Regions from separate parts of the Homo sapiens genome. Here region 2 is linked to region 1. The links come from fine-mapping of genetic effects on gene expression. A gene starts in region 1. The other region holds a variant in brackets. All regions are shown on one strand. Distances are between the middles of the regions.

Region 1 (4,384 bases):
CGGAAATCAACTCTGAGATGCGTTTTAGGGCCGTGTGCAACCTCGGGATCATTTAGATAAAGAAAAACTGTGGAGGTTGGCGGGCGTCTCAGGATAGTGTCACCACCCCCTACCCTGCTCCCAGCCTCAGATGAGTAGTGTTATATCCTGGGAAACTGTCTAATGGGGATGAAAGTCAATCTGTGTGTCTCAATGCCTGTAATGAAGCAAGTTTACAGATTTTTAAATTTTTATTTTTATTTTATTGAATTATTTTTGGTGTGTCTAGGCCAAGGAAAGAGGAGATCGTGGGTGGGGAAACAGACTGAGGGAATCAGAAGCACCACTGTCCATCCGGAATTAAATCCACATCCCAGCATCTTCTGCAAATATTTCACTAATTATTTCCTCTCGGAACTCCTCCCCTCGTGCTCCTTCCTCTGGTGAGGCCGGCGCTCCCCTCCCAGGCCGCAGCGGACAGACAGGGATTGGGTTCCGTGTGCCTGCCACACCAGGCAGGCTCTTGCGGCTCCCAACTAGGCGGCCTAAATGAGGGAGGAAAGAGGAGGCGCATCGCTGATTCACCGCGTCAAGAGCACTGACTTTCCTTGGAGGTGTGAGGTCCACGCACCCCAGCCACGCACTTGGGGGTCGGTTTGCGGTGCCTCCCCCTCCAGTCCCAGTGAAATCCCCACAGTTTTTCCTACTATCACTGACTTGCCTTGCACTCCGCGTGCATTGGCCACACATCCTCGCCTCCTCCACCCGCTCCGCCGCCGGTTTTCTTGGAAGTTAAATCTTGGAGGATTTGTCCACACCTTAAGAGAAGAAAATCCACGTTAGCTGGCAGCAACGGAGATCCCAGCATGCTGGCATGCCCAAGTCTGCCCAGGTTCCCCCAAGGCCATGCCCGCCGCCCGGGAAGTCACTGCCCGCACCCCTCACGTTTCTTCAGCCGCCCCTGGGCGCTGCGTCTAACCTGAAGACACCAGGCCTCTTCCCGGATCCACTCGACTTACCCAGGCCGCTGCCAATCCCAGCTCCTTCCCCAGCGCCTCATTTCCGATTTTTTCATATGCTAAGTCGTTTAACAACTCCAAGTAGCCAGTTATGGCTTCTTTATTTATAGGTTCCCTGCTATTTTACGTCGTTTTTATTTCTCTCGGCAACTATTCTAGTAGATTAATCAATAGCCATTTTCTGACCTTCGGGAACCCCAGCTGATGCTTTTTGTGGCCGCACGAAAAAATACATACAGGAAAACACGCCCGCATCAAGCCGGGAAAGAGCAGGTAGGACCTGAGTGGTTTGGTTGGGGGAGGGGGAAAAAGACATCTCAGCAGGTGTCTTCCCCGGAATGAGCACTGAGGCCAGAGGGGAATCTGAAATCTAATTAGCAGGAGGGAGCCGGGTGCGCTGCTCTTACTCTTTAAAGCTAAAAACAATGAAACAAAAAGCAAAACAGAGACTAAGTTTTGCTTTTTAAAACACGATATGGGAACCTCGTTCTAGGTCGCCCAGTCCCTGTCTAAGGAGTGTGACAAAGTGGGGGGGAGAAGGGCGGAAGGGAGAGGGGGCGGGGAAGGCAGGGCAGCGACAGTCGCACAGTCCCGCGGACGCTCCCAGGCCCACGCCCTGACTCGCTCACACCCACCCACACTCACACCCACCCGCTCCCTGGGCCCCAGGGCCCGGATCCAGCCTGGGTGGGGGGGTCTCCGGGCGGGCCGCAGCGCCCTCCGTGCCCCGGGGATGCTGGCGCACAGTGCGGAGCGGAGTTGCGCGTCTCTCGTCCCTTTGTTGACAATTCCCTGAACCAACTTGAGTTTGGCCGGCTCGGCCGCGGCCCTGACGTCACGCACGGTCACGTGGCCCCGCCTCCCGCTGGATCTTTAAGTAGAAAGTAATCTATCAGGCCAGTCCTTAAAACGGGACTTTCGACTACCGGGGCTTCGGCGTCCCTGACACCCAGCCCCCTGCCCCCCCGCTACTGTCCCTGCCCGCGCCCTCCCGAGCTGCTCGGCGCCCGGCGTCCCGCGCCCGCCTGGACCGCTCCTGCGCCCCACGCCAGGGCCAGAGGCCGAGGAAGGCGGGCTAAGTGAGGGGGCGCGGCGTGGAGAACCGCCGGGGCCGGGAGCGGTAGCGAGCGCCTAGTACCGAGCGCCAGGGACGGCAGGAGTTCGCGGAGCGCGGCCGCTGGGGGCGGACGGCAGAGCCCGCGCCACGCGATGCGGGGCCGCCGAGTGTGAGCTGAGCCCAGCGGGCCCCAAGCCACCTGCGGCCCCCTCCCCTCTCCCTGCCCCCCATCTTTCGGGGGCACTCAAACCCTCTTCCCCTGAGCTCCGTGGCAGCCCCCGAACACCCTCATCGCCCGCTGCCCCCTCCCCGCCGCCGCTACCAACCCCGAGGAGGGATGACCCTCTCCGGCGGCGGCAGCGCCAGCGACATGTCCGGCCAGACGGTGCTGACGGCCGAGGACGTGGACATCGATGTGGTGGGCGAGGGCGACGACGGGCTGGAAGAGAAGGACAGCGACGCAGGTTGCGATAGCCCCGCGGGGCCGCCGGAGCTGCGCCTGGACGAGGCGGACGAGGTGCCCCCGGCGGCACCCCATCACGGACAGCCTCAGCCGCCCCACCAGCAGCCCCTGACATTGCCCAAGGAGGCGGCCGGAGCCGGGGCCGGACCGGGGGGCGACGTGGGCGCGCCGGAGGCGGACGGCTGCAAGGGCGGTGTTGGCGGCGAGGAGGGCGGCGCGAGCGGCGGCGGGCCTGGCGCGGGCAGCGGTTCGGCGGGAGGCCTGGCCCCGAGCAAGCCCAAGAACAGCCTAGTGAAGCCGCCTTACTCGTACATCGCGCTCATCACCATGGCCATCCTGCAGAGCCCGCAGAAGAAGCTGACCCTGAGCGGCATCTGCGAGTTCATCAGCAACCGCTTCCCCTACTACAGGGAGAAGTTCCCCGCCTGGCAGAACAGCATCCGCCACAACCTCTCACTCAACGACTGCTTCGTCAAGATCCCCCGCGAGCCGGGCAACCCGGGCAAGGGCAACTACTGGACCCTGGACCCGCAGTCCGAGGACATGTTCGACAACGGCAGCTTCCTGCGGCGCCGGAAACGCTTCAAGCGCCACCAGCAGGAGCACCTGCGCGAGCAGACGGCGCTCATGATGCAGAGCTTCGGCGCTTACAGCCTGGCGGCGGCGGCCGGCGCCGCGGGACCCTACGGCCGCCCCTACGGCCTGCACCCTGCGGCGGCGGCCGGTGCCTATTCGCACCCGGCAGCGGCGGCGGCCGCGGCTGCTGCGGCGGCGCTCCAGTACCCGTACGCGCTGCCGCCGGTGGCACCGGTGCTGCCTCCCGCTGTGCCGCTGCTGCCCTCGGGCGAGCTGGGCCGCAAAGCGGCCGCCTTCGGCTCACAGCTCGGCCCGGGCCTGCAGCTGCAGCTCAATAGCCTGGGCGCCGCCGCGGCCGCTGCGGGCACAGCGGGCGCCGCGGGCACCACCGCGTCGCTCATCAAGTCCGAGCCAAGCGCGCGGCCGTCGTTCAGCATCGAGAACATCATAGGTGGGGGCCCCGCGGCTCCTGGGGGCTCGGCGGTGGGCGCTGGGGTCGCCGGCGGCACTGGGGGTTCAGGGGGCGGCAGCACGGCGCAGTCGTTTCTGCGGCCACCCGGGACCGTGCAGTCGGCAGCGCTCATGGCCACCCACCAACCGCTGTCGCTGAGCCGGACGACTGCCACCATCGCGCCCATTCTTAGCGTGCCACTCTCCGGACAGTTTCTGCAGCCCGCAGCCTCGGCCGCCGCCGCTGCTGCGGCCGCCGCTCAAGCCAAATGGCCGGCGCAATAGGGACGCGCCAATGGCCGGGACCCAGGGTCCGGCGGCGGCCTCGAGCAACAAATGCACCTCCAGGCTGCGCGCCCTGTCCCAAGCCCGGTCCCGGTCCCGCTGCCCAATCCTGGACTCTGCCTCTCCCCAATTTCCTTTCCCCTGAGCCCCCAACGCCTACCTTCCGCGGCCTCCATCCCCTCGCGCACACCTAAGCTGGTCGAGCAAACTCACCGCGCGCCCGCCGGGGATAGCTTTCCATACAGGTAAAACCGAAAACCGAATTTTCCAAAAATGCACCCCGACGGCGCCTGCTCTTAGTACCGTGGGGATGGGAGGGAAATTCTTTGTATATATTTGTAAAAAAATTATTGACTTTCCTTTTGGGGTTTTTATTTTTTTAAGAAAAAACAAATTCCGTAGATTTAGAGCTCTGAACTTTCATTTTTTTTGAAGGTTCACTCTCCGAAGTTTTATCTGAGAAAAGAATGTATAGAGACGTTGGGAGATTTTAAATATAAAAAATTTTCAAAAAGGCAAAAAGTGTCATTCTATTATAAAAGTCTGTTTATATAT
Region 2 (4,384 bases), 220 kb before region 1:
TCATTATTAAAGTATAGATTGTAACTTATAGTTAGTAGACTAATAGTCTGGAAGTGGAGACAGACATGTAAATATGGATTTCAACACAGCGTGGTAAGTGCCATGATGGAGGTGTGCACAGGCCTCTGTGGGTCACAGAGAAGGTCAGGGTTCAAGTACAGCTGTCCAGAGCAGTGCAGACAGTGCACTCAGGAAAACACAAATGAGTCCAGTTTGGCTGGAACGGATCATTCTGTGAAGGAGAAGAAAAGAGTGGAAAGAAAGGTGAAGCTCTGCTCATTGAAGGACTCTGAAAAATGGACATTGATATGGTGCTTTAGACTCACTCATCAAAGTATAGTCTGTGGACCAGTAGATCTGGCATTACTGGAAGCTTGCTAGAAATGCAGATGCCACTCTGGGAAACACTGTGTAGTGCCCTACTCCTTCAAGTGTGGTCCTGCAACCAGCAGCAGCAGCAGCAGCTGGAGGCTTGTGAGAAAGCCAGCCCCACTCCAGACCTGCCAAATCAGAATCTGCACTGGGCAACAGGATGCCCAGATGATTTGCTTATACACCAAAGGTGAGAAGCACCGTTCCAGGGCATATTAGCCCTCTGCTGAGCCATAATGAGAGGAAGTAAGTGGGTGAGAAGTTAGCTGAGGTGGGAGGTCTCAGAAGGTGGTGATACACTACGGCATGAGGGAACAGTATGAGCAAAGACATCGAGGTATAAAACAGCAGCTCAGTTTTATTGTACCAGGTACTGTGCTACATGCTTTCTATGCACTCATCTTTTGATCTCCATAGTCACCCGGTGTTTTTATTCCAACAGATGGAGGGGCAGAAAGGTGGATAACTGCTGGGTGCAGTGACTCATGCCTGTAATCCCAGCACTTTGGGAAGCCAAGGCAGGTGGATCACTTGAGCTGAGGAGTTCAAGAACAGCCTGGGCAACATGGGGAAACCCCATCTCTCCAAAAAATACAAAAGTTACCCGGGTGTGGTGATGTGCACCTGTAGTTCCAGCTACTTAGGAGGCTGAGGTGGGAGGATCATTGAGCCTGGGAATTGGAGGCTGCAGTGAGCCATGATTGCACCACTGCACTCCAGCCTGGGTGACACAGTGAGACACTGAGAAAGAAAGAAAGAAAGAAAGAAAGAAAGAAGAAAGAAAGAAGGAAAGAAAGAAAGAAAGAAACAAAGAAAGAAAGAAAGAAAGAGAAAAAGAAAGAAAGAAAGAAAGAAGGAAAAGAAGGATGGGGGAGGGGGGAGGGATAGCATGGAGAGATATACCTAATGCTAGATGATGAGTTAGTGGGTGCAGCGCACCAGCATGGCACATGTATACGTATGTAACTAACCTGCACAATGTGCACATGTACCCTAAAACTTAAAGTATAATAATAAAAAAAAAAGAAAGAAAAGAAGGAAGGAAGGAAAGATGGAAAGGAACGAAAGATGGAAAGGAAGGAAAGATGGAAAGAAACGAAAGGAGAATGACCAGCCCAGTGTCACTGGACACGAGGTGGGGATGTAAACTCAGGATTCCTCAACATCCTTCAAATACCCCAAGCCTTCATGCCTTGTGTAGCAGATTCCCTCTACAAGGAATTGCCTTCTTTATCTGTTAAATCTCATTCATTTTTCCAGATCCAGCTCCAAAAGTCACCTCCTGTGTGACCTCCTTCCCAGTTTCTCCCGTCGTTAGTTACATACTCTGTGATGATCCTGAACATCTCTTTCATACCACAATGATAGAATTTGTCATGGTCTGGCTTATTTGGTGCTCCCTCTGCTCTGTTCAACCCCAAATAGAAGGTGATGTTTTTGGAAGTGGAGGAGGCATGTCTCATTCATCTCAGTCTCCCTAGTGCCTAGTTTGGTGCTTCATGCCTAGTAAACACGAATATGGGTTTATTAAAGGTGGACGTGGGTGCCAACTCTGGCTGCATTCCTTACCAGCTATATGACCTTGAGCACATTCCTTAACCTTTCGAGCTTCAGTATTTGCATCTATGAAATGGTGATCATGAAACCTACTCATAAGGTTGATATGAGATATGTAAAAACGCCATGCACACTGCAGGGCACAGAGGAAGTGTGTGATAAATATCTTTTAAGGGATAGAATAAATGAGTAAGCTGACCTGGTGTAAAAGCAGATGGTAATAATAAACTACTACCTATAGAGTCTGTACCAGGCACTATTTAGGGTAAATTATGTACATTACCTCCCCATCCTTCAAATGCCACCTATTGTTATCATTATCATCATTTTATTTTAATAAGTAATTAAACTGAGTCCTATATAGGTTAAGAAGTTTCCTTAAGGTCAAAGAGAGAACCAGACTGGGACTCTGATCCAAGTGGGTCCAAAGTCTAAGCTGCTAGAAAAAAAAAAAAAAAACCCAAAAGGCTTGACAAAAGAACCTCCCCATTGATATAGTGGCCCATCCAAAGATCACACCACTGTACCTTTAACCTCCAGAGATAGAACTGTTTTATCAAATTTTTACCAAAACCTCGAAAAAATCTGAACACTTTTTAAATTAGATTCCTCAATACTAGAAAAATACAGCTGTTAGCAGTCACATGAGACCTGGCTGTTCTTCATGAAATACAAGCTGTGTTAATGGGAGGTATGTTAAAGCTGTTTGTTGCTGTACAGCACTGTGTGTATAACTAAAACAGTCAGGAGCTAGCTTCCCACGTTCAATGAAATGTTTACAGACAGACAAGTTAATAGGCATAAAAGCTATATCCAAAGCATGAGTGATATTCTTTTGA[T/C]GTCAGCTCCATGGAATCCTTCCTGTTACAGTAGTAAGAATTTTTTTAAGGAGATTATATTATAGAATCAGAAAGTGCTTTTCTTTACTGTATGCCATTCCTGTTTCTCAGTTATAAGGGAAATGAATTTAGAAGTTTAAAAAAATCAAATTATTTATCTTAGTGTTCCCTGAAGTTTGCAAACTGCTGAGCAATGTGGTGCTTTGCCCTACATTCTCCTCATTGAGTCTATCTGGGTAAATTAATTACAAGACAATTCTTAGGAATTAAGTGTATTTTAAGTTCAGAGGCATCTGCTTAGAGACTTCTAATACCGCTAAATAGTCCCTTTGGAAATGCACTCGTTAGTATGAGTGGTATAATTTTCATTTCCGCTGGCACCATGGCGTATGACTTCTTCAGTTTCAGCTACCCTCTGATTGACCTGCCAAGGGCATAAACCACTCTGAAGATGTTCCAGCACCATTTGTGCTTCTCCAGTAGGTATAAGAAACTGGATTGATTTGCTCTACATCAAGGAATAATTTAAAAGATAATTTTTCCTGGTTTTAATGTGGTACATTCTCTGTGTAAACACACACACACACACACACACACACACACACACACACACTAGCCTGAACTTATAATAAGCTTATTGGGCAATAGAACAAAACAAATAAACATTTTCTTAGATAACAGATATTATATATGTCCTAAGGACATGAATTAGGAAAAAATCCATGGTGTGATTAATCCATTATGTAAAATGAAAATGCATTTTTAAGTCGAATGCCAATAAGATGTTGGCAGGGAATGGAAGGGGGGGTACTTGGAACACAGAGAACTGAAATTTACATTTGGGATTCTTTCCTCCCCTCTGAAATGAGAATGTGGTGAGTTTTATCACTTGATTCTTGTGAATCTGCTGTGTTCTGGTTTGGAAGAATTCTGAATCAGGGTGATTTTAGGACAGCTGCTGTTTCCCAGGCTCAAAACAAATAGAAGCAGAGTGTGGCCAGCTCTCCATAATTCCCTCAGTTATCCTCGGCATGGCTCTGCAGGGGCATCCCTAGAAAGACACAGGAGAGCCACTCACCATTCAGCCACCCTGTCGACAGATCTAATTTGGAAAGATCAGGTGTAGAGAAAAGAAAACAGTTCTTCGAATAAAACAGAGGCCAAAAAAAAAAAAATGCATAAAATAATCAGAATTTTTAGATATACACAGAGCTGGCATTCAGTTACCTCCAGAAGCACAGTTGACCCTGTGGAATGTCATCAGGTCAATCACTTTCTGATAATGATAGTAAATGGACATTTATACAGAGCTTTAGTGTTTATAAAACATGTCTATATATGGTGTATATCATTTGGACCCAATAACAATCCCATGATGAAGGTTATTATTAGAACTATTAAGAACACAGTCTTTGGAGTCCTGAAAATTAGGTTAAAATCCTAGCCCTCAATGTACTAACTGGACCACCTTGGGAACTTACTTACCTTCTCTGATGCTGTAATAGGAATAAATGAGATCACATGGGGAAAACATTTTCCCAGTGCTTGACACTTGGTATGCTCACAATAACTGGTAGTAGTTGTTGTTGTTATTATCTACTATATTGTGTTGCCTG

Direction of the effects. Positions count from the first base shown, and alleles are read on the strand shown. Sizes are in standard deviations (SD) of each study's normalised expression.
For the expression in skeletal muscle of the gene that starts at base 1,901 in region 1, allele T in region 2 goes with a lower level than allele C (moderate effect, 0.70 SD a copy in GTEx).

The links. PIP is the estimated chance that this variant, and not a neighbour inherited with it, causes the effect.
Region 2: its variant is the best candidate, but not a certain one, in a credible set for the expression of FOXD3 in skeletal muscle (GTEx, PIP 0.87).

Annotation. Positions count from the first base shown.
Region 1 is chr1:63,320,667-63,325,050 of GRCh38, forward strand. FOXD3 (forkhead box D3) reads left to right here and starts at 1,901. Exons shown (of 1, transcript NM_012183.3): 1 at 1,901-4,384. The coding sequence starts at 2,393. The coding sequence ends at 3,829. It overlaps FOXD3-AS1 (FOXD3 antisense RNA 1), which reads right to left and starts at 3,775. Exons shown (of 3, transcript NR_121637.1): 1 at 3,689-3,775; 2 at 701-797; 3 at 218-524. RefSeq lists silencers at 1,509-1,818, 1,939-2,018 and an enhancer at 2,342-3,031.
Region 2 is chr1:63,096,714-63,101,097 of GRCh38, forward strand. No RefSeq gene overlaps it. Among named protein-coding and RNA genes, the nearest start is that of LINC01739, 86 kb to the left of the region's middle. The variant T/C (reference allele first, on the strand shown) is at 2,769.